Linked DNA regions of Homo sapiens: regions 1, 3 and 4 are each linked to region 2. Evidence: fine-mapped expression QTL. A gene starts in region 2. Each other region holds a variant in brackets. All regions are shown on one strand. Distances are from middle to middle.

The links. PIP is the estimated chance that this variant, and not a neighbour inherited with it, causes the effect. A credible set is the group of variants that fine-mapping cannot tell apart.
Region 1: its variant is the best candidate, but not a certain one, in a credible set for the expression of RHBDD3 in testis (GTEx, PIP 0.72).
Region 3: its variant is the best candidate, but not a certain one, in a credible set for the expression of RHBDD3 in sigmoid colon (GTEx, PIP 0.52).
Region 4: its variant is the best candidate, but not a certain one, in a credible set for the expression of RHBDD3 in pancreas (GTEx, PIP 0.88).

Annotation. Positions count from the first base shown.
Region 1 is chr22:29,291,127-29,299,227 of GRCh38, forward strand. It overlaps EWSR1 (EWS RNA binding protein 1), which reads left to right. Exons shown (of 17, transcript NM_005243.4): 9 at 436-473; 10 at 1,011-1,043; 11 at 1,362-1,480; 12 at 5,113-5,242; 13 at 6,701-6,823; 14 at 7,607-7,769. Among named protein-coding and RNA genes, the nearest start is that of GAS2L1, 11 kb to the right of the region's middle. The variant T/C (reference allele first, on the strand shown) is at 3,230.
Region 2 is chr22:29,263,368-29,271,456 of GRCh38, forward strand. RHBDD3 (rhomboid domain containing 3) reads right to left here and starts at 4,614. Exons shown (of 7, transcript NM_012265.3): 1 at 4,381-4,614; 2 at 4,059-4,210; 3 at 2,112-2,301; 4 at 468-851. The coding sequence starts at 2,259. It overlaps EWSR1 (EWS RNA binding protein 1), which reads left to right and starts at 4,901. Exons shown (of 17, transcript NM_005243.4): 1 at 4,901-4,982. The coding sequence starts at 4,970. RefSeq lists enhancers at 4,493-5,364, 4,757-4,816, 4,927-4,986, 6,449-6,498 and a silencer at 5,157-5,246.
Region 3 is chr22:29,329,796-29,337,896 of GRCh38, forward strand. AP1B1 (adaptor related protein complex 1 subunit beta 1) reads right to left here. Exons shown (of 23, transcript NM_001127.4): 17 at 4,470-4,615; 18 at 1,992-2,121; 19 at 1,654-1,738; 20 at 828-914; 21 at 583-737. It overlaps SNORD125 (small nucleolar RNA, C/D box 125), which reads right to left and starts at 3,463; the gene lies at 3,368-3,463. RefSeq lists an enhancer at 565-1,521. The variant C/T (reference allele first, on the strand shown) is at 4,218.
Region 4 is chr22:29,317,968-29,326,068 of GRCh38, forward strand. It overlaps a transcript of RASL10A not described here. Among named protein-coding and RNA genes, the nearest start is that of RASL10A, 6.3 kb to the left of the region's middle. The variant T/C (reference allele first, on the strand shown) is at 3,370.

The DNA.
Region 1 (8,101 bases), 28 kb after region 2:
AACCCTGGGCCTCATTTGGCTCTCCCTTGGGAGAGGTTGAGGGTGCACCTTTATGAACATGGAAAGGTTTATCACAGCAGTTAACCCCCACTTGCTCCTCCCCTCTATACCAAGCTCTTCTGGTTTTTCACCTGACGGGGTGGGTGTTTGGGATCTATTTTTTCTTGCTAATTTGCCAAGTATTGCACTATTAATACCAGCCCCCGAAATGAAAGGAACCAACCACACTGGTGTGTACAATCAGACAAGCAAGGTTGTATATTGAGGAAATTTGAGCAAGCTGCCCTGAAGAAAGGCATAGTGACAAGATGAGAGAGATGCATTGTTTGGAGATGTGTTTAGCCAGTGCCCTTCTTCCCCACGAGCCCCCCCAAGGCTCAGAGCGGTACTGGCTTTTAAAGGGAAAGGCCTTCATTTCTTCGTTTATCCCCCCAGCAGCGCTGGAGAGCGAGGTGGCTTCAATAAGCCTGGTGGTAAGTTTTTGAGTATTACCATAGATAGTGTTTAAAAAAAAATGCAGTCAGTTTTTAGAAAACTATAATTTTTTTATTAGTTTCATAAGTGGTTTAAAAATGATCTATACAAAAGAGACTAATGGGTACTGCCGGCATTGTCTTAGGGGTTAATAAGGTTAACCTATGGTTACAAAACAAAGGGTAACTTGAAGTATTGAGTAACTGCTTCTGTAATATGGGGGAGAATAAATTTTTAAATTTGGTTTATTTAGAGGAAAAATTTTGACTTAAATTTAACACTGATTTGGCACATAAGCATTGAGAGTGTATTTGGTTAATGGTTTAGAAGCAAACCAGCAAAGGAAAAAAGCAAACCCTAGCAAACCTTTCACAAATGTTAAAGAGACACTGCTCCATTTTAGCAGTGCGGGTCATTTTGAGTTTAATGAATCCCCATCAAATGGTGGTATAGTAGATAGCTATGTGTGTTTGTAAGGTTTGTAGCTTGCAAGACGTGCACTAATAATATTTTATATGATCTTTCCTGGTTGGCAGGACCCATGGATGAAGGACCAGATCTTGATCTAGGTAATTTTGAATTCTAGTTGTGCTTCATATCGTGCTTTGTAAATTAATGGTACAGAGGTAAATGCATGCGTAGAGTTCAGCAGCCTTATAGACCAGTGTGATATTCTTGCTGTCAAGGACAGTTTGGGAAATCCTATGTGAGCATCTACTCATAATTGCCTTAAGTGAAGTAAACCAAAAGTTTGATAGCATTCTTCTTAGTATGCTTGGTAGTTTTCTTAGATTTATGATGAATATCCTTGGGCAGTAGTGATCAGGTAGTTAAGAAACCCCTATAGATACATGATAATAATTCTCCTGTCTTGTTGTCTCTGAAAGGCCCACCTGTAGATCCAGATGAAGACTCTGACAACAGTGCAATTTATGTACAAGGATTAAATGACAGTGTGACTCTAGATGATCTGGCAGACTTCTTTAAGCAGTGTGGGGTTGTTAAGGTCAGTAAAAGCATAACCAGGTCATCTGGCAGAACTTTAAACCACAGAGCATTTTAAAGAGATTGAATTGATGTTGAGAGTTGTTTTCTAAGGTTGCCTTTGCCTGACTTCTTTCTAGGTATCTTATGGTTTGTTCCTTTTTAAAAAAGATTAGCCTTTTTTTTTTTTTTTTTTTGAGACGGAGTTTCCTTCTTGGTGCCCAGGCTGGAGTGCAATGGCGCAAGTCTTGGCTCACTGCAACCTCTGTTCAAGCGAATCTCCTGCCTCAGCCTCCCAAGTAGCTGGGATTACAGGTGTGCGCCACCAGCTAATTGTGTCTTTTTAGTAAAGATGGGGTTTCACCGTGTTGGGCAGGCGGGTCTCAAACTCCTGACCTCAGGTGATCTGCCCACCTTGGCGCCTCCCAAAGTGCTGGGATTACAGGTGTGATCCCCTACGCCCGGCCTTCCCTCCTCCACCCCTAGGGACAGAGTGTTGCTCAATCTCAGCCTCCCAGGTTCAAGTGATTCTCCCACCACAGCCTCTTGAGGTAGCTGGACTTATAGGCACATGCCACCACACCCAACTAATTTTTATATTTTTAGTGGAGATGGATTTTTGCCTGTTGGCCGGGCTGGTCTCTAACTCCTGGCCACCTCAAGTGGCCACCTACCTCAGCCTCCCAAATTGCTGGGATTACAAGCATGAGCCACTACACCCAACCTCAAATTATTGTGTCTTTATGCTAATTCTTCATAGCTAGTAACGCAGATTTTTTCTTCAGGGATTTTGACTGTTTTTCAGTTCTTGCTCTTCTGTATTAGAGTTAGTTTATGAACCCCATAAACCTCAAAACCTTAAAACCCCAATTGAATATTTACTAAATCTATGAAGTAATTTCAGGAGAATTTACATTTTTATGATACTGAGTGATCTTTTTTTCCCCATGAAGATTTTATTTCTCCATTTATTTGTATATTTATTTGCTTATTTATTTACTGAGACAGTCTTGCTGTGTCACCAGGCTGGAGTGCAGTGGCACGATCTCGGCTCACTGCAGCCTCTGGCTCCTGGGTTCAAGCGATTGTCCTGCCTCAGCCTCCTGAGTAGCTAGGATTACAGGTGCCCGCCACCACACCCAGCTAATTTTTGTATTTTTAGTAGAGATGGGGTTTGGTGAAACCATGTTGGTCAGGCTGGTCTTGAACTCCTGACCTCAGGTGATCTGCCGCCTCAACTCCCAAAGTTTTGTGATTGCAGACATGAGCCACTGTGCCTGGCCTGTCTCTATTTGTTATTTTATTTTACTTTGAGACAGAGTCTCACTCCTTCACCCGGCTGGATTGCAGTGGCGCAGTCTTGGTTTACTGTAACCTCTGCCTCCCGGGTCTCCTTGCCTCAGCCTCCCGAGTAGCTGGAATTACAGGCGCCTGCCAGCACCCCTGGCTAATTTTTGTAAGTAGAGATGGGATTTCACCAGGTTGGTCAGGCTGGTCTTGAACTTCTGACCTCACGTGATCCACCCACCTAGGCCTCCCAAAGTGCTGTGATTACAGGTGTGAGCCACCACACCCAGCCTATTTAGATCTTCAGTAAAGACTATCGATTTCCTTAAAGGTCTTGCAAATTTTACTAGTTTTACTTCTAGGTTTCGTTTATTTTCAAGTTGCTGTGGTTAAGGGTCTTCGTTAAATGACACTTTTCTGGTTATTACTGGTGTATAGAAATACAGTTGATTTGGCCGGGCGCGGTAGCTCACGCCTGTAATCC[T/C]AGCACTTTGGGAGGCCGAGGCGGGTGGATCACGAGGTCAGGAGATCGAGACCATCCTGGCTAACACGATGAAACCCCGTCTCTACTATAAATACAAAAAATTAGCCAGGCTTGGTGGCGGGCACCTGTAGTCCCAGCTACTCGGAGGCTGAGGCGGGAGAATGGCATGAACCTGGGAGGCGGAGCTTGCAGTGAGCTGAGATGGCGCCACTGCATTCCAGCCTGGGTGACTGAGTGAGACTCCGCCTCAAAAAAAAAAAAAAAATACAGTTGATTTTGGGCGGGCGTGGTGGCTCATGCCTGTAATCCCGGCACTATGGGAGGCCGAGGTGGGTGGATCACGAAGTCAAGAGATCGAGACCATCCTGGCCAACGTGGTGAAACCCCGTATCTACTAAAAATACAGAAATTAGCCGGGTGTGGTGACACGCGCCTGTAGTTGAGCTACTTGGGAGTCTGAGGCAGGAGAATCAGTTGATCCCAGGATGCAGAGGTTGCAGTGAGCTGAGATGGCGCCACTGCACTCCAGCCTGGCGACAGAGCAAGACTCCATCTCAAAAAAAAAAAGGAAATACAGTTGATTTTGGTAAATCTTATATAAGGTGATTTCTCCCTGCTTGTAGGTGTGTGTGTGCACAGATATCACACACACCTCAAAAGTAAAATGCTTTTAGTGTCTACTGTCACATTCTACCCTGTGCAAGACTCCTTGTTTGCTTTTTTGTTTTGAGATGGAGTCTTGCTCTGTTGCCCAGACTGGAGTGCAGTGGCACAATTTCAGCTCACTGCAACCTCCGCCTCCTGGGTTCAAGCCTCAAGCCTCTTGAGTAGCTGGGAGTACAGGCTTGAGCATATTAAAAAGACTGCTTTTTAATATGTATATAACATGTAGTTTATTGAGGAATGTGGAGTTTATCCTGGTTAAGAAAGTAGTATTTACCATCAAAATTTTGGAAATAAAGATGTTAAAATAGATTTCCAAGCTGGATACAGTGGCTCACATGTGTAATCCCAGCACTTTGGGAGGCCAAGGCAGGAGGATCCCAAGGATTGCTTGAGCCCAGGAGTTTGAGACCAGCCTGGACAACAGAGTGAGACTCTGTCTCACAAAAAAGAAAAAAATGCATTTCCACATTATTCATACCACAGTTTTGCCATATTTTCTTTTCAGTTTTTAGGTATCACGTTCCTTTTTTTAAGTCAGAGGTATCAATATATATATCCTGTTGTAATCTTTTTTAAGTCCTATAAATAGATTGCTCTTGTGTTACTGGATATATGTAAACAATTACAGACTAAACTGATCGTGTGCATATATAATGCAAAAAAGTACACGTGAAGATATTCTTATACAAGGTAGCTCCTGAATTCAAGTCAACCACATCTGATATTCAGCTGAAAGACTAGTCATCTGTTCTAACTGGAGGAAGTAGTGGCTGTGTTAGACTAACCAAGAATCCCTGTAGTTCACTCACAGCCTGTACACTGTCCTTCACGGTTTAAGGATAATTTTCTTTATGCCAGTCATGTCTTATGTGGTGGTATCAAAGTCTGACTACCCCTACGAGGTGGCTGTGCTCAGTGGATACCTGTCTGGGCATAGAAAATGCCAGGGCAGGCAAACCAGCATCAGAAGATGGCTAAGGCAGGAGTGGGGCCTATCCTGTTCACTTCCACACTTTGGTCTACTTTGGTTTTTATGATAAAGCAGGGATAGAGGAGAAAATAACTTAGAATTCTGAAAAACTTAAAAGCGGAGAAACGGTGACATTTAGTGACTTACTACATGTGAGAAATTGGTACTTTTCCTGGATTTTGCCTGGACTTTTTTCTCCCAAATTAGTATATTCTAGTCATGCCTAACTATGCTATTCTTTGTCTAGATGAACAAGAGAACTGGGCAACCCATGATCCACATCTACCTGGACAAGGAAACAGGAAAGCCCAAAGGCGATGCCACAGTGTCCTATGAAGACCCACCCACTGCCAAGGCTGCCGTGGAATGGTTTGATGGTGAGATGTACTCACTGGCATTCTTAATCTCCCTGGCTATAGAATATGGCATGAGGGAGAAACTTGTGAACCATAGGAGCAAGAAGACCTTCCATCTCTTCCTGGGGGAGGTAGATGGCCGGTCTCCCTGCAGTAGTAGTAGCACCCAGCCATTGACCCTGGATTTGGAGATCCCTTTATTTTGAGGCATTAGTATTACAAATCAACCTTGCTTAAAGTGGCAAACACTTCCTAAGCACAGATTATCAGAAGGTACAGAAAACCCTTCAAAAGAACATCTTAGCCAGTGTACATTTGCATATAGATAAATATATATATTTAAATGAGGCCTTGACATTAATGGTGGGATTTCACTTCAGACAAAACCAACTTGAAAGCATTGAATGACTTGGCCATGTCCAGTGGCTTGCACCTGTAATCCCAGCACTTTGGGAGGCCAACATCGGTGCATTGCTTGAATCCAGGGGCTTGAGACCAGCCTGGGGAACATGGCAAAACCCTGTCTCTACAAAAAAAATACAAAAATTAGCCAGGTGTTGTGGCACACTCCTATACCTATAGTACCAGCCACTCAGGAGGCTGAGGTGGGAGGATCACTTGAGCCCGGAGAGTTTGAAGCTCCAGTGAGCTGAGATTGCACCACTGCACTCCAACCTGGGCAACGGAGCAAGACTCTGTCTCAAAGAAAGTGTCAAATAACAAGTCCTGGTTCTGTTTTCTTGGTCATGCAGTCAGCTTCCCACCAGCTTATTTTCCTCCTTATGGTAGACAGTGTTTTTTGCTTGTGTTGTTTTTTTTGAGATGGTCTCACTTTGTCACCCAGGCTGGAGTGCAGTGACACAAGCCATCTCAGCTTACTGCAACCTCCACCTCCCAGGTTCAAGCCAATCTTGTGCGTCAGCCACTCGAGTAGCTGCTGGACTACAGGCGCATGTCACCACGCTGAGCCTAACTTTTGTATTTTTTAGTAGAGATGGGGTTTCACCATGTTGGTCAGGCTGTAGGAAGGTTTTTAAGTGTATTTAAGTATGGCCTTTTTCTGGCCAGGCACAGTGGCTCTTGCCTATAATCCTACCACTTCAGGAGGCCAAGGCAGGAGGATTGTTTGAACCAAGGAGTTCACTAGCAGCCTGGGCAACCTAGTGAGACACTGCCTCTACAAACAATTTTGTAAAATTAGTCGGGCATGGTGATGCGTGCCTGTAGTCCCAGCTACTTGGGAGGATTGCTTGAGCAAGTGAGATTGAAACTGCAGTGAGCTGTGCCACTGCACTCCAGCCCGGGCAACAGAGTGAGACTCCCATCTCAAAAAAAGCCTTTTTCTGGCCTTGTCATTAAAGATCTTAGAGAAGATTACAGGCAGACCTAATGCATCTGGGAGTGGTCATTTGATGATGATGTGGAGTTGGTGAACAGGGAGTACAGGGGAGTAATTGATGTTCTGTTGTCTTGTTCCAGGGAAAGATTTTCAAGGGAGCAAACTTAAAGTCTCCCTTGCTCGGAAGAAGCCTCCAATGAACAGTATGCGGGGTGGTCTGCCACCCCGTGAGGGCAGAGGCATGCCACCACCACTCCGTGGAGGTACTTTTTCTGAGCTCCTATGTTGCATTAAAAGGTTTTCAGTACACTTCATACCCTTGAGAAACTTGATTATTAGAGTGAAGAAATATAAAATTGTGTGTAGAGTCAATACTAGACTATCGAGAGCTAACAATGAATGTTTGTTGGGAATAAAAGGAAGAGAAGAACATGGGAGGCTGGAAGCCACTCTGCCTGTCAACTCCAGACTGCCATTTATTCAGCTTTGGTTGTGTCTGTATAGACATGCCTATTCCTTACAGAATTGTGGGAGTTCAGCCAGGTGCAGTGGCTCACGCCTGTAATCCCAGCACTTTGGGAGGCTGAGGTGGGCGGATCACCTGAGGTCAGGAGTTTAAGACCAGCCTGGCCAACGTGGTGAAACTCCCTCTCTACTAAAAATACAAAAATTAGCCGGGTATGGTGGTGCATGCCTGTAATCCCAGCTACTCGGGAGGCTGAGGCAGGAGAATTGTTTGAATCTGGGGGGGTGGAGGTTGCAGTGAGCAAAGATCGTGCCACTGCACTCCAGCCTGGGCAACAGTGTGAGACTCCGTCTCCAAAAAAAAAAAAAAAAAATTGTGGGAGCTCTGTTTCTGTAGAGCACGTGGAACACGCTCCTCACAGGGAAGGGGGCTGATGGCCTGAGCCACACGGAAACACGGGACAGGTGATGGGGAAATGACAGCAGTAGTATCTGTGGGTTTACTTAGTGATTTTTATTTCCTATAGCAAATTTGGTGCTACAGAGAAATGATTTGCTGTTTCTTGTTGTTCTTGTTGTAGGTCCAGGAGGCCCAGGAGGTCCTGGGGGACCCATGGGTCGCATGGGAGGCCGTGGAGGAGATAGAGGAGGCTTCCCTCCAAGAGGACCCCGGGGTTCCCGAGGGAACCCCTCTGGAGGAGGAAACGTCCAGCACCGAGCTGGAGACTGGCAGTGTCCCAATCCGTATGTACTTGTCTTGGCAAATTGATACCCTACGAGTGAAGCCACCCTTCCCTCACCCCATCCCCACTCTAGAGTGGATTGCTCTGTCTAGAGGAACAGAATGATGACCCTGATGGCTGGTTAGGGACACTAGTCAGCCATTCACTGGACGCTTCAGAGCCTTCTGAAGATTGATTTGACCTGTCCTGTGGGTGCAATGCTGCCTGAGGCTGTGCCCTAAAGCATGGGTGTACATAGATCCTCTTGATAGTGAGTGTGTACCTGTTCACACACCACCTTTCCTTGTTTATCTTCCTTAGTTCAATTGGTGATTTCTGCTGTGATGTAATTGT
Region 2 (8,089 bases):
GGGGTTTCACCATGTTGGCCAGGCTGGTCTTGAACTCCAGACCTCAAGTGATCTGCCCGCCTGGCCTCCCAAAGTGCTGGGGTTACAGGCGTGAGCCACTGCGCCCGGTCAGGCTTTTAATTTTTTTAATTTTTAATTTTTGCTCAGGGTGGTTTGGCTATTCTGGGCCTTTTGTGGTTCCATATAAATTTTAGGGTTATTGTTTCTATTTCTGCGAAGAATGGCATTGATATTACAGGGAGCCCACGTAGCCCTTTACATTGTAATTGGCACCTCCACCAGGCCATAAGACCCCAGGTCCCAGCCCAGAGCATGTCCCAGAGGAAGACTCAGAGAAGCTCCTGGAATGTGTGTGCACGGCTCCTTGGTATTGCTTGGGCCTTCACCCCTTTGTGCCACTTCCTTCCCAGGCACCCACCCACAGAACCCACACATCCCCACGGGCCCTGGGCTCAGGCAAAGGATACAGGCCAGGCCGGCAAGGAGGCCGCAAAGGAGCTGCAGGAAGGGTGGCTCAGAGCTGAGCAGTGGGGTCAGGGCAAGCAGCAGCCACGGCGACAGCCACGGTGGCAGTGCCCCACGGGGCCGTCTAGGGCGGTGTCCCTCCCCAGCCAGCATGGCCAGGTGGACAGGCATGTATCCACAGCTGCCGGCTGCACTGGACAGCCCAAGGCCTGCCAGCAGCACTGCCAGCAGCCCAGAAGCCAGGGCGAGCAGGGCTGAGGCATGCAGGAATCTCAGCGTGCCCAGGTGGCACTCCTGCTGCCAGCCCACAGTGGGCAGGAGCAGCAGGCTCAGGAGCAGGCCTGGCAGGGCCGTGTGGCCCAGGGCATGGGTCAGCAGCCGGTGCACTGGGAGAGAGAAGGGGCTTATGTGCCAGGTTAGTGGCCCCAACATCCAAGGCTGTCCCAGGTGTGCCAGGTTGAAGGTTACGCTACACCAGGGCCACCTGCTGAGCCCACCTCCCCTCCCCAGGAGCCAGTCTTCCCACAGCCAGCACTTAATCATTGGTGGAAGGGACCAAGGACTTCCAAACACTGTGGCTACGCCTCTGTGGTATTAAACAGAATACACTGGACGTGCCACTCAGTCTTTTCACTGACAACCCGCTACAGAGCACTCACTATGTCCCAGACACCATGAAGGTACTCTGCTTCTGTATTTACTAAATCATACCTGGCTGAGAGCATGAAATGGCCTGCTTCAATCCTGGAGCTACCCCATTCCCTCAAGCTGTGTGACCCTGGTCAAATCACTTAACCTCTCTGAGCATCATTGGGGGTCCTCAAATACAAATTGGAGGAGTTATTATTGGGAAACAGGTGCTCAGCTGAGGTCACTCCTCAAAACCCCAACACCTCCTCCTCCCATCCTGATGCTTAGTTGAAAGTCTTAGCTGTTTTTTTGTTTTGTTTTGTTTTGTTTTTTGAGATGGAGTCTCACTCTGTCACCCAGGCTGGAGTGCAGTGGCGCGATCTTGGCTCACTGCAAGCTCCGCCTCCCAGGTTCGCGCCATTCTCCTGCCTCAGCCTCTCGAGTAGCTGGGACTACAGGCACCCGCCACTACGCCCAGCTAATCTTTTTGTATTTTTAGTAGAGACGGGGTTTCACCGTGTTAGCCAGGATGGTCTCAATCTCCTGACCTCGTGATCCGCCCGCCTCGGCCTCCCAAAGTGCTGGGATTACAGGAGTGAGCCACTGCGCCCGGCCAATTTTTGTATTTTTAGTAGAGACAGGGTTTAACCATGTTGGCCAGGCTGGTCTCGAACTCCTGACCTCAAGTGATCCACCTGCCTCAGCTTCCCAAAGTGCTGGGATTACAGGCGTCAGCCACCTGGCCTTAGTTCTTATTTCAAGGAAAAGCTGCTAGAAAGGGAAACCATGAGAAAAGCACTCCTACCCATAGGTTCCAGCCCACCCTAGGGAGTCCTCTGCCTCCCTTCTTGGCTGTGGATGTGCTGGGCATGCTCCTGTCTAAGGCCATGCTTTCCCGGGACACTGGGCCCCATCCCTGTTTGACCCCTGGAGGCCTTGTGCTGCTCCTGCCAAGTGGGCCCAGGCCCTACAGCAAGTCTCCTGCTTCCTCCAAGGTCCACGTGGCTGGCCCTCACCCTGCCAGGGGTCCAGCAACAGCTCCGGGGCCAGGACCAGGCCGGGGCCGGCCCCCACCAGCCACAGGGTGCTCATCAGCAGCATCAGGACTGAGGAGGCCAGAGGCAGTGCTGGGGACAGTTGGCCATGGGGGCCCCTGGCATGCATCGCTTGGTTGAGGACGGTCAAGGGTGGTCCTGGGGCTGTGTGCTGGGGATAAAAGAAAACAATAACAAGTTATTACTGGAGCTTTTATCTCACCAATACCCTCTCAAGCACCTTATCAACAGCCCTATTTTACAGAGGTGGAAACAGGCTGGAGACGCAGGCCCAGCAGCTTGGCCTTAGTGGAGCTCAGACCCTAACCCATGCGCTCATAAGCCATCTTACCATTCCACTCACCTCTGTTTAAGGACTGGCAGGGGACAGGCATAGAGACTTCTGAGTCCTGATAGGCCCTGAACTCCCAAAAAGAGGGGTTCAGGCCCTCACCCCCCAGGGCGAATTCAGGGCCATCTCTAGCCCTCTTCTGTCCTCCCCCTTCCCTCAGACTACTACCTCCCTCCTTCCTCCCCTCCCCTGTTCCCAGCCTTAATGCTCCAGATGGTTTCAGTTGCCCTTGACCCTGGGGTGGGGCCAGACAATGGGCAAGCCGACAGGGTAAGGGGTAGGGCAGATGGGCAGAAGTCCCACATCTTGAGCCATACTCAGAGACCTGCGACTGAGACATCCCCTTTGAGGGTGAACCCATCCACTGTAAGCCTCCTCCTGCTTCCTTACTGGCACAGCCCCTCTGGCCCTGGCTCCCCTTTCCACAGGAAGGGTACAGTATGCGCTCCACCTCTTTCTGCTCTGTGTCCTGAGGCAAGTTTCCAACCTCATCTTTTTACAGATGAGCCTCATTTTACAGATGAGCCTCTCCTTTCTCATCTGTAAAATGGAAATTCATAAATTCTTTTCCTCAGAGTATGATGAAATAAAAAGGAATAGGCTAAGGCAGGCCCTGGCCCACAACTCTTCCTCCATAAACCATAGCAATCCGCACTAATCATGGCAGGCGTCTGTAGCCACCAACTGGCCCATCGAGAAGGCCTCAATATGGAGGTGGCTGCTCCAGCCTAGCTGGTCCCAGCTTTGGCCCTCAAACATGGCCTTTCCCTGCCCACCAAAGCAAGGCCTTCTCCCCCGTGCTGTTCTCTTGCATCCAGCCTGTCCTCCAGGGCCTGTAGGTCTTCACCCCTGGTCAGGCCTCTCGGTCCCAGGACTCCCACTGAGCTGATTCAGGGCAGGAAGCAGGATCCCAGAGAGACAAGAAGGCTGCCTAATTTGCTCCCCTGCCAAGCGCCTTCTCCACATCTACCAGTTTCCTGCAGGAAAAATGTGGAAAGCTCCTCTGCCTGCATTGTCCTTCCCTCCATTTTGCCAGCAGGCAAACTCCTATTTCACCCTTGGAAGCCCAGCTCAAATATCCCTTCCCCTCCTCTGGCCCCCTAACATCATGGATCTTATCCTTAGGAGCACAGCTTGGCCAGTCTGTCTCCCTAGGCAGGTGGTCTGAGCTCATGGCTCCTCTGATCCAACCCCACATTCCCCAGGGTATTCACAGCACACAGCCAGTGCTTTATATATGTTCACTGAAAAAAGGACACTAGCTTGGCTCCTGGTCCTGCCGAGGGATTTGAAGGTGAACCCTGCCCTTCGCGGACCCGGGCATCCACCTAGGGGGCTGGGGCTAGAGGTCCAGGAAGGTGGGCAGGGTCAGCCTTGCCTGGAGGCAGGGTTTGGGGCCAAGGCACCCACCGTAAACCTCCTCCTGCATCGACACCTCACAACCATTCCCCAGCTCTGGGCACCTTAGCAAGGGTGAAGGGCTTACCCGTGGACACTCGGAACTGGGACTTGAGCCCCCTGGACCTCACTTTCTTCAATCTATGAAACGGGGCAGTGCACCACCAGGCCCTGCCTACCTTACTGGGAAGCCGGGAGGGCAGAATGGAAAGACAAGGACGGAGATTCTTCCGGTGGCGGATAGAGTAGGGGGTCCCAGGATCTGTCTGGTTCGAACTCAGCTGGTGACTTTGCAGAGATACTCAATTTCCTTGGGCCTCAGTTTCCCCTTCTGTAGAAACAAGGATATCGGATGAGGGATGATTAAAGGGCCTGCTCCACCTCGACCGTTACCGGGGATAGGGTCTCGGGGCCAGGCACGGCGTTCGAGGCCTCCCACCCAGCCGACCGGCCTTGGGGACCCTTCCCCGCTGGCCCGGGCCACGCGTCCCGGGTACTCACTGCAGAGCGCGCCCGGCAACCCCGAAAGGCCGGTCGGGGACCCCGGCTGGGAGTCAGGACTCTAGCTCCCGGGCGCGACCCGAGAACCCTGAATCCATTCCGCGCACACCCGGCCGCGTGACCCCTGCCGACCGGCTGGCGCGCCACCCATTCCCCGCGGCCCGCGGATTAGTCAGCAGTTGTTCTAGTCCGGGTCCCTTCCCCCAGCCCTCCCGCCGATCTCCGTCTCCCTGCAGGGCCGACTCTTCAGCGACCGTCCCTAGAGCCAGCGGACGGAACCATTCCAAACAGCCTAGTCTCGTGCTGAGAGCCTCTCCGGTTTCACGCTGAGACCCGCTCACCCCCGCTCTGGCCCCTTAGATGCTATTTTGGCCCGAGTGTCACGTCGGGCGCTCTTTAGAGAGGACTGGGACAAGAGTTGCGGACGCGAAGAACGAGTAAGCGGTGGTTCATCCCTCCTGACCCCACCCCCGTGGCCTGGCCCGATGGTCGCGCCCGGGGTTGCGAGATTTGCGCCTGCGCAGTGCGGCGCCTAGAGGGAAAGCGAGAGGGAGACGGACGTTGAGAGAACGAGGAGGAAGGAGAGAAAATGGCGTCCACGGGTGAGTATGGTGGAACTGCGGTCGCGCCGGCGGTAGCCGGAACGCCCAAACTGGGGGTCGTTCGTCTCTGGGCTTGGCTGGGAAGACTGAGTGGAGTTGCCGAGAGGGGGTTGAGGCACCCGCCGCGGCCCGACGAGCTCGGGGATCCGCATTCCTCTCCCCTCCCCCAACCGGGCGGGCCGGTTCTGGAATCTTCCGGCGCCCGTGGCGCGCGGGGGGCTTGCTGCGGCGGGGGCGCGCGGGGCCCGCCTTGGCCTCCATTGTGTGGCGGTCCTCGCGCCCTGAGCTCCGGGCCTCCCGCCACGTGGGCGGGGCCTGCGGCCTTCGAGGCCCTGCGTGAAGGGGAGGATTTGGCCAGGCCTCAAGCCGGTCACTATGAAACCGCCGGGGGGCCCGCAGGCTGCTGTCCCTGTGAGGCCTCCCTCCCCGTTTTCAGGGTTTCCTGAGAAACCAGGGGAAAAAGCAAATAAAGATACCGTGGATTTGTGGGCCGAGGGGTGCCGGCCTATGAGCGGGAGCCCCGTCATCCTTAAGACCCAGTCGGCTGGGGCGTCTGGCGCTGCCGAGCTGCCCCCTCTGTGGCTTCCAGCCCCAAGCCGAACTTCTGCTCGCCTGGGCTTTAGACAGAATGTGCTTCCCTCCTCCAGGGCCCCCAGTTTGCCGCTTTCTTGGGCTTCTCCATTTTTATCGTTATTAATCCACGTCCTCCCCTCCCCCAAAACCAATTAAGTGGCTTCCCAGGGCCCTTTTTCTGCAAACGCCGAGGGACATCCGTTGTATAATAAGGCCAGCCTGGGTCGAGAGACGAGAAACGCTACCAGAAAGATATTTCTGGTCTCTCTGACCTAGGAGGAACAAAAGGCCGAGCCTTCATTTGAATTATGTTTCAGCAGTGGCCTCGCACGTTTATTCGCCTGCGTTAGGCCGGCAGGCCTGTTGATTTCGTAGGTCGACAGAGGAGAGGGGAAAAAAGGCCAGTAGAAGCAATCTTAAAGGCACTTGCAAGCAAGCCCCGGTTGGGAACTCCAAAATGGGAGTAGAGTGGTCCTTGATGGAAGGAGCGTTTAAGAGTGTCGCCTAGCCATCACCTGCAGTTCGCAATCTGTGGGTACACTAACCCGCGAAAATTGGCAGGGTGGAGCATTTTTGCCCCGGGGGTATTCTCAGGCCACCTGGTTCCAGGCCTTAGAGACAGTGGGAGAAGATGAGAAGGAAGACAGGAAAAGTTCTGGGCACTCCAGAGTTTTTGGAGTCCAGAATCCAGCAACTTAAGGACAGTTTAAGAATTCTCCCCATCTGTGGTCAATAAACAGGTAAGTGTTGGCTGTTCGTGCCGGGATACCAAAGAGTGGATACCAAAGAGTGCCGGTAGAAGAGAGGACTGAAATACCACAGCTAACCTCCCGGTGGGAAGTGGTTTCCTAGGTGCCCTATCCACCCTCTTCTGCTCTGCAAAAGCCTGAAAAGGCAAAACGTGTGCGTTGACATTTTTGCGTGGCTGGACGTGCCTTTTTTCAGTCAACTTTGTTCAAACCTTGTTCACCAGTAACTACCATGTGCTGTACTGTATTAGAATTACAGTTGTGGTTTCTGTTGACACAAAGTAAACACATTAGGCCTGGCTGGGGGGGCCTTCAGAGAGTCACATAAGTAATCTGGTCCTTAGTTTCCTTTCCTGTAAAATACAGAAGTTAGGCTAGACCTCTTAAGCTTTTGAGCCCTTCTGACCTTCCAGCATAAGCATTCCACAAATTTGTCCTATGCTGACTTCAGCTCAGGTACTGTGAAGCTCAACTCAGGTAGTGTGAAGCAGCTTCCATAGTGACTGCTCTAAAGTGTTAAACCGTTGCCTTGGGTTAATAATAGAAGTTTTCTCTCCTCGTATGTTATCTCATGTAGAAAAGTACGTAAAGCATATATATCCAGTGCAACAAAGAATTGGAATGCAGACTCGCAGCAATCTAGAACCCCCAGCGCTCAATCACAGTGAAGTGATTTTTAGTGAAGTCAGTGGCTCACTTTTGGGGGTTAAAAACGAACACGGTTGCTGAATAATCTGACCAGTTTGTAATTGTATTAGGTTGGTGCAAAAGTAATTACGTTTGCATCAACCTAATAGCTTGCTTGAGGGCCTGTGATGTTTGTGTGCTCTAGGAAGATAAATGTAAGTTCATGAAACAAATTTGCTACCTTCTATAGCCCACCAGTTAGTATAGGGCCGAATCCTGTGGTTTCTCACTGATAAGAGGTCATTGGTTGTTCCATATCAGCTTTGCCAGTTTGATGTTTTACATAACTGCTCTTGCGTAAAAGTCGTCTTGCAAACGTTGAACTTACATGACAGTGATTTACAATCACTTCTCAAGCAAAGACCTCAACAAAACGTGGGTTAAAATATTTGATGTTAAATGATTCATTGCTGTGTTTATTTTGTAGATGCCACATGGAAAAAATGATCTGCATTTAGTTTTAATGTCAGAGAGAGTATGACTTGTAGTGCTATTGAAAATGCCTTTAAGATTGTCATGAACAGATTATTTTTTTCATTATAGGTTAGCCTTTGGGCAGTTGATTTGTTCCTCTTGGTGATTCAGGGTTTTGAGTTAAGAGTGTGTACAAAGGAAAGAAAGTAGTCCAGTAAAGTACAGAGAGGTAGGCAGATAAGCCAACGTGAAGAGATGGATTCAGCAAAGCTCTCTCAGGCCGCCGAGGGATTGTGAGGCTGGCTTTGGATTCCATGAAGTGGATGCCATGAAGAGCTGTCAATTGTTGGTTTTGGATGAGGGACTACTTTCTGATTGGAAAATAAAGGACCCCTTTTTTCCGTCCTAATGGCAGTACTGTCTTCAGACAGAACAAGATATGTGTTCTTGTGGAGAAGAAAGAATTGGGCAGAATTTTCAAAAATAATTACTTTAACTGCCTTTAAAAAAAAACTAAATTTATCTAACTTTAATGCAGTAGCGCTCTGAAAACTATTTTCCGTTTGTTTTTACTACTTGTAGACACCTCAGTGGACCAGTTTTTGGTCCCTTTGGATGCATGTTATAAATTTCATAGGAAAAGGAAAATTATAGGGAGGTTTACTTAGATAAGGGATGAAAATT
Region 3 (8,101 bases), 66 kb after region 2:
GCCACGCCACAGCCCCCCACCGACCAGCACTGCCAGCAGGACCCAGGAGGGGCAGTGTCTGGAGGGCCATGCCTGCCAGAGACTCAGGGGTGTGGGGGAGAAGCAGAGTTTGGGGCTGTCCGGGGCCCTGGAACAGCGGTGCAGGCCTCCAGGACAACTGTGTGCCCCAGGGAAGCCATTCTCTAACAGGTCTACCTCAAAGGCTGGGAGGTTCAGGCTCCTGGGAACCACTGTCCTCCCAGCTGGACATGCAGGCACTCACAGGACAGGGCCAGGGCCTGTGCCCAGCAATGTCACTTCCCAGTCAGGGGTGCCAAACCAACTGCACCACCTTACAGGGCCCAATTTTACACAATCTTCTAGTCCAACTCACTGTTCCGAGACCCAATTGGTGTCTTATCTGGGTAACCTGACGGGGTTGATTTGGAAGCTTTCTAGAAAGGTCCTTCTCAGGGACCAAACTGATTCTAGTTCAAGCCAGGCTTGAAGGGACGCTTGGACCGCGTCCTCCACCAGGGCCACCCCCTGGCATGGGACGAAGGGGAGGCTCCAAGGCTGCAGGGCGGGTGCCGGGGCTCTCACCGTGCAGCTGGGGTTGCCCGGCTGGATCCGCAGCTCCGCCAGCACCCAGATGCCGTTGGTCAGCTTCAGGGACTGGTAGAGCATGTCCTGGCCCTCCACGTTCCTCTTGGCGACAGTGAAGATGTTGCTGCTCTGCAGCTTGCTGCTCGCAGCCTCTGTGGGGTCACATGGCCGTGAGAGGCCCCAGTCAGCGCGGGGGCCTGGGTACAGGCGAGGGGCTGGGGTCGGGGGCTCGGAGTCCTCACCTGCATTGAGGGGGCAGTCTCTGATCTGGAACTGGGCCTCATTCTCATTGGGAATATCCTTCCATGTGGCCAGGAACATCTGCCGGTCTGCGGGGTGAGCAGGGTGGGGATGAGAGGCGAGCCCCTCATAAACCTGTGGGCCCTCTGTAGCTCAGCAGGAAATGGGTCTGGCCTTTACTGTGCCACGTGAAAGCTGACAACAGGCACTAGCTGCCGCACAGCCCTCCTGCTTCCCTAAGCACACCCTCCGCTCTGTGAGGGAGGCCCCAGTGCCGCTTCCAAATGACCCTGGCTTCCTGCCTCCAGGCCTTGGATCTCCCCTCCCCACCCCCACACGCCTTCCTCCTCCTCGGTGAGCAGCCTGCTCGTTAGTCACAGCCTCCCATGCAGGCCTTCTGTGGCAAGCAAGAGATGACATGGGCCAAGGGCTCCACGCAGCCAGGGGCAGGGTGCAGGCCGTCTGTGTGCTGTGATCAACACCCTTCTTGGGGGTTCCAGAAAGGGCACAGAGGAGGGGGTTACCAGGTGTGGGGCATGACCTGGGCTCGCTGCAGCCCATGGGACAAGGCTGAGGAGCGAGCAGGAGAGCCTGGGAGTGGGGTGAGTTCCATGTGGCACAGCCCACCTGCCAGACCAGAACTGGCCACTAAGGCCGGGGGGGTCCTGGGTATACCCCTCACTCCAGGCCCTGCAGGGAAGCAGCAACTCCCCGACTCCATTTACGGGCAAGGCAGTCCATCTGGACCTTGGTAAAGGCACCACCTTGGCCAGGTTCCCAAGCCACAGCCCCATTTCAGGCACCCCAGCGGGCTCCCTCATGACTCACCCATCTTCCCGTCCTCCACAAAGAGGATGTGCAGTGGGTACAAGGTGCTGAAGTAGAAGACATCGATGTTGTTCTTCACGGCCACCTAGGCACAAGGGGGTCCCCAGTCAGTCTCTGGGGCTTGACGCCACCTCTGAGGCCCCAGGAAGAGTGTCACTGAGCAGATTCTCTCCCAGGGCCTTCCCTGGTAAACACACCCCTTCGTTCCCCAACCTGGGCCTCCCCAACACATCTGCAGCTAAGAGCATGACTCCGCAGACACGACCTTCTACTGACCCCAGTGGGGCCCGGCTGGTAGGTGAGTAAGGACTGGGGTGCCTGCCCTGCCCGGAACCCACCTGGAGGTTGTTCAGAGGCTCCATCTTCATGACCGAGCCCACCGTGCTGAGAGGCAGGGAGATCTCCACTGTCTGGTTGGGGCTGAGTGGCGCGTGGACCTGGAGGGGGGCGGCGGGGGCCAGGCCAAAGCTGGGGAGAGAGAAGCCCCACAGGGATGGCAGGGGGAGTAGGTGCTGATGCGGGACAGGTGAGCTCCTCCGACTCGGGAGCTGGGGCTGTGGTTGGCAGGGAGCCTCTCACCGTGCCAGCCTTCCCATGTTCTGGACCCTGGACAGAAGGATGGGCTGTGGGTCCCCTCCCCCAGATGGCCATCTGGACAGAAAGAAAGAGCCCCAGGCCAATTGCTCTGCTCTGCCCCAGCCTGGCTGCAGGCCTGAAGCCCAGCTCTGTTCCTCTCCTCTGGGCCAGGCACTGGTGGGCCCAGGTAGGCAGGCCTTGCCCTGTCCTGCCCTCAAGGAGCTCTGTCTAATGCCAGGGGCCTGGAGTATAAGCTGCTTCTACCTTGAAAACTCTGGGACCACCCAAGTCTCTGCTGCCAATCCTCAACTCCCAGAAGGGATCTGACCATCCCAAGCAAGACGCTAGATTTTACTCTCTTGGCCAGAACTTGCCAGGTCACACAGTGGCCACAGAGAGATTCAGGAAAGCTCTGCTTCTCTGCAAAGCAGCACAGTGACAAATTAGGAAGATCCTCATGGGTGTGAGACACGCCAGCAGCAGGCTCTTGGAAGGTAAGTCACAGGGCATGGGACTGGGGGCACAAACCGAGGGCTCGGTATACCTGGGCTGCGGATTCAATATTATACCTGCTCCTAGCCTCATAAAAACAGAGCCAGGTACACCTCTTCCTATCCTCTAGATGAGGACACCGTCTCAGGGAGGAGCAGGCCTGTGTCAGACCCCATAGGGTGAGGGCGCTGCTGAGAATCAGAGTTTGGGCTGTCTGACCCCAGCCTGTGCTCTGCCCAAGAAGCCATCAGCCTGCCTGGGACACAGAGGGAGACCATTTGGGGAACCCCAGGTCCGCTTGGTGGCTCAGCACACTAGGCTTTCCTGGGAGCTCCACTACTGCTCGCTATGTGAGCTGTCCAAGGAGCCCAGGTGTCATTACCTACTAAAAAGGGGTGATGGCAGTGACTTTGCTGGGCCATCAAGTGGCTCAAGTGAGACAATACTCCCAAAGCCGGTGCCACAGGGCCTGGGTGCCCAGGAAGCATTCAGCACACAGTAAGTTTGCTAGAGGCAACCATTGGAACCACCTCTCGGAGCCTGGTGCACTTCTGTGGCCTCCAGGGTCACATGAGGGTAAGTGGTAGAGCCACCCCTAGCCCCGGTCTGCCCAAGGGTCAGGACCTACTGGCCCCCAGGCTTCCTTGGGGAAGCAGCCCCTTCAGTCAACTTCTTAGAGGCTCAGTTTGCTCATCATGAGCGTGCTCAGGAAGAAGAATCATCAGGAGGGGCTGCCAGGGGTCCCCAGGGAGTCCTAGCCTCACTGGCTGGGTCCATGACGCAACCTTCCCACTGACACCCAGTGTAGCGGACCCGGTGGGGAGGGGCCTGAAGCAGCTACCGCTCCCAGAGGCCCCATCTGACACTTTAATCCTCTGCCACAATGGGGAGGCTGGTAGGCAGGCCCACTCCCCACCAGCCTTCTGAGAGCTGGTCCCTAAGATGGGCCCCTCCTATGTGGGGTGTTTGCCAGAGGTGGGCTTCTCAGCTGGAGCAGGGCGTTTCTGTCTGTAAAACACTCCTTTGGACTGTGGAGGCAAAAATAAGGGGGGCCAGGTGTGGTGGCGTGCACCTGTAGTCCCAGAGACCCAGGAGGCTGAGGCAGGAGGATTGCTTGAGCCCAAGGGTTCAAGACCAACCTGGGCAATACACTGAGGCCATCTCAAAAAAAATAAAAACTAAAAAGAAAGACGTCCTTTCCCACTCTGCCTGGTACTTTGGAGTCCATATGAAGAGGCCACTTGGGGGTAAAAATCCCACTGCTTGGCTGAGCACGGTCACTCACACCTATAATCCCAGCACTTTGGGAGGCCGAGGTGGGCGGATTGCCTGAGCTCAGGAGTTCGAGACCAGCCTGGGCAAGATGGTGAAACCCCATCTCTACTAAAAATACAAAAAATTAGCCAGGCGTGGTGGTGTGCACCTGTAGTCCCAGTTACTCGGGAGGCTGAGGCGGAAGAATTGCTTGAACCCAGGAGGTGGAGGCCGCAGTGAGC[C/T]GAGATGGCGCTGCTGCACTCCAGCCTGTGTGACAGAGTGAGACTCTGTCTCCAAAAGAAAAAACAAACAAACAAAACCCAGTGCTTCAGAGAGTTTTGGCCTGAGCGGTGGTGGGGAACATCCTTCAGAAAAGGGGCACTGCCCTCCCCTCTACAGCCCCCACCCCTGCCTGCAGTCCCCAGAACAGACTCCGAGTGGGTTCTCTCACAGGCCTCCTCTTGAGAGGTGCGCTGGCCTCAGGGAGCTCTCACCTGTTGCGGTTGAACTGGATGGCAAAGTCGGTCATGACCTGCAAGGCCTTGTTGGTCAGCTGCAGGTCCATGGAGATGGAGCCCACCTGGCGGGTGAAGGTGCCTGAGATCTCCAGCCCCTTAGCCTTCATGGCTGGGAGCCAGACCTGCAGGGAAGAGGGTGCGGAGGGGGCGGGTAGGTGCCTCTTCCTGCAGCCCAAACTCAACAGCCCACCTGAGGGTGCTTTTTCTCTCTCTCTCCTGCAGGGGCCTCCCAGATCCAGCACCCCCACCTTTACTGCTAGGGGATGAACAGGTGTGTACTGGGAACAGAACAATCCCATGTACCATCTAGGGCCACCGCCATGACAGGCTGCCTCTCGGAGCAGCTCAGGGTGGGGAGGCACTTCAGCGCTCCAGGGCTGACGTTGAGTCCTCAGAGGGCAATGGAGGGATCACTTGGGAAGTAGGGCTGAGGGAGGCCATGAGCTGGCAATGGAGGGATCACTTGGGAAGTAGGGCTGAGGGATGCCATGAGCTAAGGACAGAGCTCAGTGCCCAATGGCATCCTGGGCCTCGGCCAGAATCTGGGCCTTCCTGGCCATCACCGCCTGTCCTCCCTTGCAGGAGGCAGGGCTGGCCTTTGGCTGTAGAAACTGGTCTGACCAAGGACAGTACCTAAGAGGACCCCTCGCCTGGCAGGCCTTCTGCTGCTTGGCTGCCCTTGTCATTCAAGTCTCAGCTCAAGAACCACCTCCTCCTGGAACCCTGCCCCCAGGTTCCCTCGCCCCAGTGATGTTATGGCAGATAAATATGAGCTTGTGTCTGTCTCTCCTGTACTCAGAGAGCTCGCTGAGGGAAAGGCTCTGTTTTTCTGTCTTTACCACCTTGGCTCAGAGCCTGGTGTGAAACCAGTGTTTGGGGAGTGTTTGCTGAGCAAACAGGATGAGTTAGAGCCCTGCCATGGAAGACATCCACCAGCGGCATCCTGTGGGCTCACAAACGCCTCTCAGGCGGTTACTCTCCTGTGGACGGCTCACAGGCCCCTTGAGGTGAAAAGGCTCAGACCCCACCGACAGCTTCCGCAGCGCACTCAGTGCCAACAAAGGTCCCACTGTCTCTCAGGTTGCCAGGCCAGAAACCACAGAAACATCAGGCACCAGCCCCCCACCCCACCCTAACCCCCTTGAGACAGTCACGCAACCCAAGTCCTGTGAAGGCCACCTCTTACATCTGCCTCCAGGGCCTCCATTTCTCTCCATCTCCAGAGGTGCCACCAGCATCTAAGCTGCCACCAGATTTCCCAGGTAAGACAGCAGCTGCCAGGTGGCACCCCATTTCCACCCTCTCCCCCTTTCCACAGCAGCTGATGTTATCTTGTGAAATGCAAATCTGATCATGGCACCCTGAGAAACTCCTTCCAATCCTGCAATGGCCTCCACGGGCCTTGGCCTCCACAGCCTGGTGCCCATCTGCTCCCCAGGCTTGGCTTGCCCCTGCCCCTGGGACCTCACACTGGCTGTTCCCTCTGCTTTGAAAGCGCCTCCCCACCCCCATCCTGCTCGGTTAACCCTGAGCACGCCCCCGGACAGATCTGTGAGGACAGAAAGCACCCTGCTTTTGTTCTTGGCTGTGCCACGGCGGCTGAGAGAGTACGCAGAAGCTGGCTGAACCTGACCGGGGGGCATGGCTCTCTCATGGACAACTCTCCAGGGGCCCCCCAATCAGGCCTCCTTTCCCCTGGCCCTCTCTCAGTCGCCCAAGGCTGGGGATGCAGACCGCACTGCTCTTGGTCACTATGGGTTCATGGCATCTCACACAGGTCCCAACAGAACCATCTTCAATCTTTACTGGATGAACCAATGAACTGTCACCACCAGCAGACTCAAATGGTGAGGAACCCAAAAGTTCTTATGCACAGACAGCCTCATTCCTTAGACCAACATGGTTGGCCAATGTCTGTAACCCCACAAGCAGGGTGTGGAAATGCATGAGGAATGAACAATTCCAGGTGGCCACAGCGCTGTTAGGAAGATGTGGATACCTACTGAGTGATTCTGAAGGGATAGTGCACCCACACCCTAGAACCCTCCCATGACCAAGGCAGTGGGGAAAGTCCTGCCCGTGGCAGAAAAACTCCTCCTCCAGGCAACCTGCCCTGATGACTCTTGACTAGGAGATCCCCTCCCCTCTCCTTTCCAGCATGCTCTGTTGGATACACTCATCTGACCCTTCACGAAGACAAAGCAGGGGTAACACTGGTAAGACAAACACATGGCTGGGCGCAGTGGCTCACACCTGTAATTCCAGCACTTTGGGAGGCCGAGGCAGGTGGATCATCTGAGGTCACGAGTTCAAGACTAGCCTGGCCAACATAGTGAAATCCTGTCTTTACTAAAAATACAAATAATTAGCTAGGCATGGTGGCAGGTGCCTGTAATCCCAGCTACTTCGGGAGGCTGAGGCAGAAGAATCGCTTGAACCCCGGAGACACAGGTTGCAGTGAGCTGAGATCGCACCATTGCACTCCAGCCTGTGTGACAAGAGCAAAACTCTGTCTCAAAAAAAAAAAAAAAAAAAGATGAACACACAAGCCTAGTGCCAGCTTGCCAAAGGCCAGCTCCAGGCTTATTTTTCCTGGCAGCTCTGCAGTGCCTGGCAAGGGCTGGCACCCACAGGGTTACAGGAGTCTTTGCTGTTCTCTGTCCCTTAGTCCTGCTTTGTATGCCTGTGATATTGGGCTTCTGGTGAGTACGAGTTGGCCTCATGCCTTGGTGCAGCTAATCCAGGTAGTAAGTCAACTGCACATGCTGTACGTTATGCCGCGATTCTACGTTCCCGTGGCCCTGCTGGCCCTGACACCCCACGCATGAAGGCAGGTGCACAGGTGGTTCTCACGCTCTGTGGGGACCATCATATAGGGGTCTGGAGCAGAGGCTTTAGTGTCACTTGCTTTCACTTCCAGACTCTGTCACCAGCTATGTGACCTTAGGCAAAAGCACTAGGATTTCTCAACCACGAAATAGGAGGAAGAGCCACAAAGGGCTGCTGGGAGGAGGACGTGCTGGCGGTGGCTGTGGAATGCTGTGCTGTCCCTACAAGGAAGTGTGCGGCTACTAGTGTCCGAGTTGCTGTCTGCTGTGGGCCTCTCAGTGCCCAGACCCTGCCAGGGGCTCCAGTCACCACCACTGCAGGTGCAGCTGGCATATGGTGGGGAAAGCCAGCTCAGGGGGTGGGGAGGTGCTGGCTCATGGCTCCCTAGTCATGACAGAGCTGTCACTGCCCCTGACCGCCAACTGTATCCTGCTTTGGGGTGGGGACCTCAGAAGAGAGAGGGGAGCTCTGGCAAACACAACTTCTGATCTGAGTGTGATGAGGGGATCAGGCCTGGTTGGTCCCCTCTGGCAGCTTCCTTGACACTGACAACATGGCCCACACTGAGCTCTCCTCAGTGCCAGGCCCGCATGTCCTCACATCCCAAACTCAACTCTCCTTCCCTCAGCCCCGGCTCCTCCCTCCCAGGGAGCTCTCAAGTCTGGCCGCTGTTTCCACCCACAAGAGCCCCCGTGGTCCAGCTGCCCCAGCACTCCTCCTCCCTGCCACGGAATCCCCCGGGGCCGGTGCTTCTGCCCCACCCCTTCCCTGCAGACGCA
Region 4 (8,101 bases), 55 kb after region 2:
GAGCCACTGCGCCCGGCCAGGACGGTCTTTTTTAAGGTGTTCTCAATGCTAGGCGCACTCCCGCCCACCCCTGGGTATTCTTTCTCTGAAAAACTTTCCTTGCTTCTCCTTCCGACACTGCAAACAGAGCTGTGTGTGAGGCGTCTCTGGCTCCCAGTATGTGTTTTTGGATGGCGAGGGGAAGGGGCACTGTGGACTGGGAACGTCCTGAGGCTCCCATGAAGCCCTGCAAACGTGCCATGTTCCCTAGGAGACTCTCACAGCAGCGTTCCTAGCAGCAGTGCCCATTTATCAAGGGCCTGCGATGTGCCAAGCCTGACCCACAGCCTCATGCTCACTAAGGCTCCCTGGGACGCCATGATTGGGCCACAGTTGCCTAGCAGGAAAATGGCAGCACAGGGGCCGGAACCCAGGCCCTTGGGCTCCAGAGCCTGGCTGAGAAGCCTGGCTTCATCTGGACCCAGAGGGTTCTCAGGAAGTACTCAACTGAAGCTCAGCCCCCAGTGACCACTCAGCCCCCTGTCGGGAGGGACTTGGGGAGGCCTCTAGGTCCCGTGGAGCCCCCCATCCACAGGGGCTGAAATGAGCTCTAATGGGAGTGTGCAGCCCTGTGCCAGGCTTCCTAAAGACCAGCAGGCTGGGGGGCTGAAGCTGCCTGTCTGCCTGGGATGTGGATTTCAGGGTTCTCTCATCAGTCCCCTCATTCCTTCCCCAAGGAAAGGCTGTAGGCCTCCTGCCTGCTGCCCCCCTCCAATCCCTATTCCCCAGGGGCCTCCTGGGCACTCCTTGAATGCCCCTATCCAGGGCTCCAGGGACCACCTGCCAACTATGCATGCATCTTCTCCTTCAGCAGAGGGGACTGGCACTAGGCACACAGTGGCCAAGGTGGTCCTGCCTACCCTCTGTGGCAGGGAGAAAGAGACAGACATGCAGCTAGGCAGGGACGGGTGAAGACAGGAGCTCTGGGCTGGTTCAGGCCTGGGGAGATGAGGAGGCCTAGGGTAAGCACCAGTCCAGCGGGAGTTGAGGGGCTTATACTGAGCCCTGAAGGATCAAGCCACAGATAGTGGGGAGGGCTGGGCAGGGGCAGGCACCAGGTGGGGAATTCTGCTTTCCCCAGTTCATTGCCCACAGGCTCCTAACACCAGCTACCTGGCCTTCACCCATGTGTTTCTTCCCAACTGGGCCTGATTCCAGCCCATCCCTGAAGTCAGGCACCCAAGACTGCATCCAGCTCCCAGGGGGTGTTAGTTCTGGACTCCTTTGCTAGGCCACACCAGTCACCACTAATTATGGTCTGTCCTGGCCACGAATCATGGCTCCACACCACCAGTAACTCACCTCCTGGACCCACGAATGGAGGGATCCTCCACAGCTCACATGCTTGGGGTGTAGTGGGTCCTTGGACATCCTCATGATGACTCCCACTAATCACAGCCAGGCAGCCTCTTGAGGGCTGGGCTGGTCTTCCAGCCATCAGGACACAAGGAGGCTGGGCAGGGCTGGGCTTCCAAGCCTCTGAAAGTTTCTTTTCTTGGGTTTGAAACCTCCTTCCAGGGCTGTGTCATCTGTGCAAGTTACTTAAATTCTCTGCACCTTGGGCTGGGTGCAGTGGCTGACGCCTGTAATTCCAGCACCTTGGGGAGGCCCAGGCGGGAGGATCGCTTGGGCCCAGGAGTTCCAGACCAGCCTGGGCAACACAGTGAGACCCCGACTCTAGAAAAAATTTTAAAAATTGGCTGGGTGCAGTGGCTCACGCCTGTAATCCCAGCATTTTGGGAGGCCGAGGCAGGGGAATCACGAGGTCAGGCATTTGAGACCAGCCTGGCCAACATGGTGAAACCCCATCTCTATTAAAAATATAAAAATTAGCCAGGCATGGTGGCGGGGGCCTGTAGTCCCAGCTACTCTGGAGGCTGAGGCAGGAGAGTCACTTGAACCCGGGAGGCAGAGGTTGCAGTGAGCCGAGATTGCGCCACTGCACTCCAGCCTGGGTGACAGAGCGAGACTCCGTCTCAAAAAAAAAAAAAAAAAAAAATTAAAAAACTAGCTGGGTGCTGTAATCCCAGCACTTCGGGAGGCTGAGGCAGGTGGATCACGAGGTCAGGAGATACAGATCATCCTGGCTAACATGGTGAAACCACGTCTCTACTAAAAAATACAAAAAATTAGTCGGGCATGGTGGTGGGCGCCTGTAGTCCCAGTTACTCGGGAGGCTGAGGCAGGAGAATGGCGTGAACCCGGGAGGCAGAGGTTGCAGTGAGCCAAGATCGCACCACTGCACTCCAGCCTGGGCGACAGAGCAAGACTCTGTCTCAAAAAAAAAAAAAAAAAATTAGCTAGGCGTGGTGGTGCACACCTGTGGTCCCAGCTACTCAGGAAGCTGAGGTGGGAGGATTGCTTGAGCCCTGGAGGTCGAGGCTACAGTAAGCCATGATCACACCACTGTACAGCAGCCTGGGTGACAGAGCAAGACCCTGTCTCGAAAAAACAAAAAACGAACAAACAAAAAAACACCTCTGCTTCTCAGCTTCCTTCTCTGTGAAAGAAATATTAATTTTCTTGACTTCACTGAGCTGTGGGATGCAATGAGATGATACAAAGAGAAAAACAAGACAACTTGTTAAGTTTGGGGAGACAAAATTGGTACATATAAAACTTCCATTTTTCTATGTAAATGGCTACAAATACAAAACATAATGGAGGCATATGTGTGTATACGTGGGTAAACAGGCACACATATATTTTCTAGCTCTGTCAGCAGAGGGCCTGGAAGAAGTGACACCCAGTGGCAGTGAATACATCCAGCATCTAGCTCTTGGTTTCTTTCCTTTTTATTATTTATTTATTTTTGAAACAGGGTCTCATTCTGTTGTCCAGGCTGGAATGCACAGGCACAAACATGGCTCACTGCAGCCTGGACCTCCAGGGCTCAAGCAATCCTCCCACTTTAGCCTCCCTGAGTAGCTGGGACCACAGGCATAGGCCACCACACCCGGCTAAATTTTTGCATTTCTTTGTAGAAACAGGGTTTTGCTGGTCTCAAACTCCTGGGCTCCAGCAATCAGCCTGCCTGGGCCTCCCAAAGTGCTGGGATTACAGGTGTGAGTCACCACGCCTGGCCGCTCTTGGTTTCTGTTTTTTCTTTTTTTCTTTTTTGAGATGGAGTCTCGCTCTGTTGCCCAGGCTGGAGTGCAGAGGCGTGATCTCGGCTCACTACAACCTCGGCCTCCCAGGTTGAAGCAATTCTCCTGTCTCAGCCTCCTGAGTAGCTGGGACTACAAGGCGCCTGCCACCACGCCCCGCTAATTTTTGTATTTTTAATAGAGACTGGGTTTCACCTTGTTGGTCAGGCTGGTCTCGAACTCC[T/C]GACCTCAGGTGATCCACCCACCTCGCCCTCCCAAAGGGCCGGGATTACCGGCATGAGCCATCGCGCCCAGCCTGGCTGCTCCTGGTTTCTAATATGGTTTTCCAGTGAAAGGAACCACGCTCCTTGGAGAGATGACTGTTTCTAGGGTTGGCGCAGGACCAGTACAAGATGATCCTGGAGCCACTTATGGTGGCAGAAAGGAGGGAAGTGCTCAAAAACGAGGATGGTGGTATGTCACAGGGACATAGGAACCTTCCAGAAGGAGCTCCCAGTGGCCAAACCTGCAACAATTCAAGCAACAAAGTAAATAATGTTGTATGGGATTAAGCCCAGATTATAAAATAAATATCCATGAGTCCAAACTGATATAAATGACTGAGTAAATAAATGAATAAATGTGATCATTCAGCTTGCTTGCTCCCAGGGGAAAAAAATACATCTGAGAAGAAACCAGTCTTGCTTAAAGAAGAATTCCAAACACTTCCATGTAGCTACTCCCCCACCCCGCTTTCCAAAGTGTAGGCTACATTTAGTTATTTGCTTCCAAAGAATAGAGTACATAAAGGAGGATGGCCGGGCACGGTGGCTCATGCCTGTAATCCCAACACTCTGGGAGGCCAAGGTTGGTGAATCACTTGAGCCCAGGAGTTCAGTACCAGCCTGGGCAACATAGTGAGACCTCCTCTCTACTAAAAATAATAATAAAAAAAATATTGAATGAAATTAGCCAGGTGTGATGGTGTGTGACTGTAGTCCCAGCTACTTGGGAGGCTGAGGTGGGAGGATCAACTGAGCTCCAGAAGTCAAGGCTGCAGTGAGCTGTGTTTATGCCTCTGCACTCCAGCCTGGAGGACAGAATGAGACCCTGTCTTAAAAAAATAAATAAAATAAAAAATAAAGAGGGGAAAAGTAACTTCACGGTAGAGAAAACTGCAAACATGCAAACATTATCTTGGCTAGGTGATCCAGGCAAACGTGAGGTGACAAGAAATGTCGATAGCATGTCACCCTGATTATGATGCGTAGGAAAAGTCACCTGTGTGGTATTCTTTCTAAAAAACCATAATCCCAGGCTGACCATGAGAAAAACACCCAACAAACCCAAACTGAGGGACTTTCTACAGAATACCCAAGCAGGACTCCTTGAAAACAGTCAAGGTCATGAAACACCAAGAATAGCTGAGAAACTCTCACAGATATAAGGAGGCATGAGTACCACGTGGAATGTGGGATTCTGGAACAGAAAGAGGACACGAGCGCACAACTAGTGAAACACGAATAAAAAACCGAAATGGGCGGCCAGGCATGATGGCTCATGCCTGTAATCCCAGCACTTTGGGAGGCTGAGGCAGGCAGATCACTTGAGGTCAGGTGTTTGAGACCAGCCTGGCCAATATGGTGAAACCCCGTCTCTACTAAAAATACAAAAATTGGCTGGGCACAGTGGCGCATGCCTGTAATCCCAGCTACTTGGGAGGCTGAGGCAGGAGAATCACTTGAACCAGGGAGTCGGAGGTTGCAGTGAGCTGAGATCGTGCCACTGCACTCCAGCCTGGCAACAAAGGGAGGCTCCGTCTGAAAAAAAAAAAAAAAAAAAAAAGAACTTTTACATGAAGAAAACTTAAAATATTACAGAGACATAAAAGAAAACCTGAATCAATGGGAAAGCATCTACTCCTGTTCTTTACATATAAAGATCCAATATTGTTATTGACATCATAACAAGGCCATTCTCCATAAATAAACATTTGATGTGATCCAAATGATACGATCAATTTTTTTTTAAGGACAAACTAGTTCTAAAGTTCAAATAGAATGAAATGGGAATAAGAGGGTACAAGAAGTTATCAAAACATGGCTGGGAGCTGTGGCTCACACTTGTAATCCCAATGACTTGAGAGGCTGAGGCAGGAGGATCGCTTGAGCCCAGGTGTTCGAGGCTGCAGTGAGCTATGATCATGCCACTGCACTCCAGCCTGGGTGACAGAGTGAGACCCTGACTCAAAAAATAAAAAATGATTGGGCATGGTGGCTCATGCCTGTAATCCCAGCACTTTGGGAGGCCAACGCGGGTGGATCACTTGAGTTCAGGAGTTCGAGACCAGCCTGGGCCACGTGGGGGAACCCTATCTCTACAAAAACCACAAAAATTAGGTGTGGTAGCTCTCACCTGTAGCCCCAGCTATTTGGGAGACTGAGGCAGGAGGATTGCTTGAGCCTGGGAGGTGGAAGTTGCAGTGAGCTCAGATCACACCACTGCACAACAGCCTGGGTGACAGGAGTGAGACCCTGTCTCAAAAATAATAAATGAATAAAAATAAAAATAAAAGTTATCAAAACATGAATAGACAAATTATCTTGTATAGAACAGAGTCCAGAAAAACACCCAGATATATGTGGAAATTTAGAATATGATAAAAATGGCATTTCAAATCTGTGGGGAAAAGATGAATTATTCAGTAAATGGTGTGGAGACAAGTGGGGAACCATCTGGGGAAAAAGGGAAGTTGGATCCCTACCTCATTCCTACAGAAAGCCCAGATGGAACAGGATTGAAATGCAAAAATGAAGAGCAGACAAGTACTAGAAAGAAAAAATTAAAAGAAAATTACATCTTAAAAAGCCCAATTTCAGCATGGAAAAGTAAAAAGCAGTAACAAAATAGGGAGGAATAATGGTAAATCAGTAAGAAAAGGATCAATAATCAGATAGAAAAATGGCAGAAAATGTGAAGACAGCTCACAGAAAGGGACATACAAGTGGCTCAAAAACACATGCAAAGAGGCACATTGAAAACATGGGAAGGGCCAGGCGCGATGGCTCATGCCTGTAATCCTAGCATTTTGGGAAGCTGAGGCAGGCAGGTTATTGAGCCCAGGAGTTTGAGACCAGCCTGGGCAACACGGCAAGACCGTCTACAAAAACATACAAAAATTTACTTGGTGTGGTGGTGCGCATTTGTAGTCCCAGCTACTCAGGAGGCTGAGGTGGGAGGATCACTTGAGCCTGGGAGGTTAAGACTGCAGTGAGTGGTAATCACATCACTGCACTCCAGCCTGGGCAACAGAGACCCTGTCACAAAAAAAAAGAAAAAAAAAAGGGAAAGAAAAGAAGAAGAGAAAAAAGGCCAGGTGCGATGGCTTACGCCTGTAATCCCAACAATTTGGGAGGCCAAGGAGGGCGGATCACCTGAGGTCAGGAGTTCAAGACCAGCCTAGCCAACATGGTGAAACCCCATCTCTAATAAAAATACAAAAAATAATTAGCCGGGTATGGTGGTGTGCTCCTGTAATCCCGGCTACTTGGGAGGCTGAGGCAGGAGAATCACTTGGGTCTGGGAGGCGGAGGTTGCAGTGAGCTGAGATTACACCACTGCACTCCAGCCTGGGCGACAGAGCAAGGCTCTGTCTCAAAAAAAAAAAAAAAAAAAAAAAAAAAAAGGCAGCTGGGTGCAGTGGCTCACGTCTGTAATCCCAGAACTTTAGGAGGCAGAGGCGGGCAGATCACCTGAGGTCAGGAGTTCAAGACCAGCCTGGCCAACATGGCGAAAATCTGTCTCTACTAAAAATACAAAAATTAGCCAAGCGTGGTGGCGGGCGCCTGTAATCCCAGCTACTTGGGAGGCTAAGGCAGGAGGAACACTTGAGCCTGGGAGGCAGAGGTTGCAGTGAGCTGAGATCATACCATTGAACGCCAGCCTGGGAGGCAGAGGTTGCAGTGAGCTGAGATCATACCACTGAACGCCAGCCTGGGCGTCAGAGTGAGACTCCATCTCAAAAAAGAAATAAAAATTTAAAAATGAAAAAATAAAAAAAAGGCATGAGGACACTCTCTGTAATGGGCTAATAATGGAAAAACCTCTGCGATATAAGCCCAACATGTATTCCGTGCTACTATTTCCACACAAGAAGGGAAAAAAATCCAATTAGGCACTGCCAAGTCTCTTTGGATAATTACGTGGTTTCCTTTGGGGAGGAAAATGAGGGAAAGGGGTAGGTTTTTACATCTGTCTTGTCTTTAGATTTTGAGCCATGTGAATGTGTTACCTTTTCAAAACAAGAACTAAAATAGAAAATGCATCTTGGGTATACCCTCTGGTTCAGCAGTTCCGGGGCTAGATCCTACAGCTACATCCCTGCCCAGGCAGGAGGGTGTATGTGGGAAGTATTCGCTGCAGCATTGCTTAGGGTGCAGAAACAGCCTGAATGCCCCGCAGCAGGGACTGGCTAACGGTGGCCCATTCACACAAGGAAGCCTGAGGCGGTCTGCTCCTACTGATAGGGAAAGAGCTCCAGAAACGACTGTCAGGTCAGAGAAGCGATGTGCTAGCAGTGTCTAGGTAGGCCATCATTCGTTTAGTAAAACTCTATATGGATTTGCTTATACACATGTGCAGAATATCCCTGGAGGAAAATCAAAATCTAGTGACAATGTCTGCCTTCAAGGGAGGAAAATTAAGGACTGAGGATGGGGTGGGAGGGAGAACTTTATTCTCTGGCTGGCTGACCTCACCATGGTCCTGAATTACTTGCTCCACAAAAATGAACGCAAACCACTAGCTGAAAATTAAACAACGTAAAACCAGGTCCCGCAACAGCCTTGGCAGTGTCTGGTGCACAGGGGAGCCCATCGGCCCTTGGGTATGTGTTGGACCCTCCAGAAATAACTGGTTGCTGTTGTTGGATTTCCTGATTGGCTGGGAAGGTTCAAGACACTTGGGAATCTTCCCAA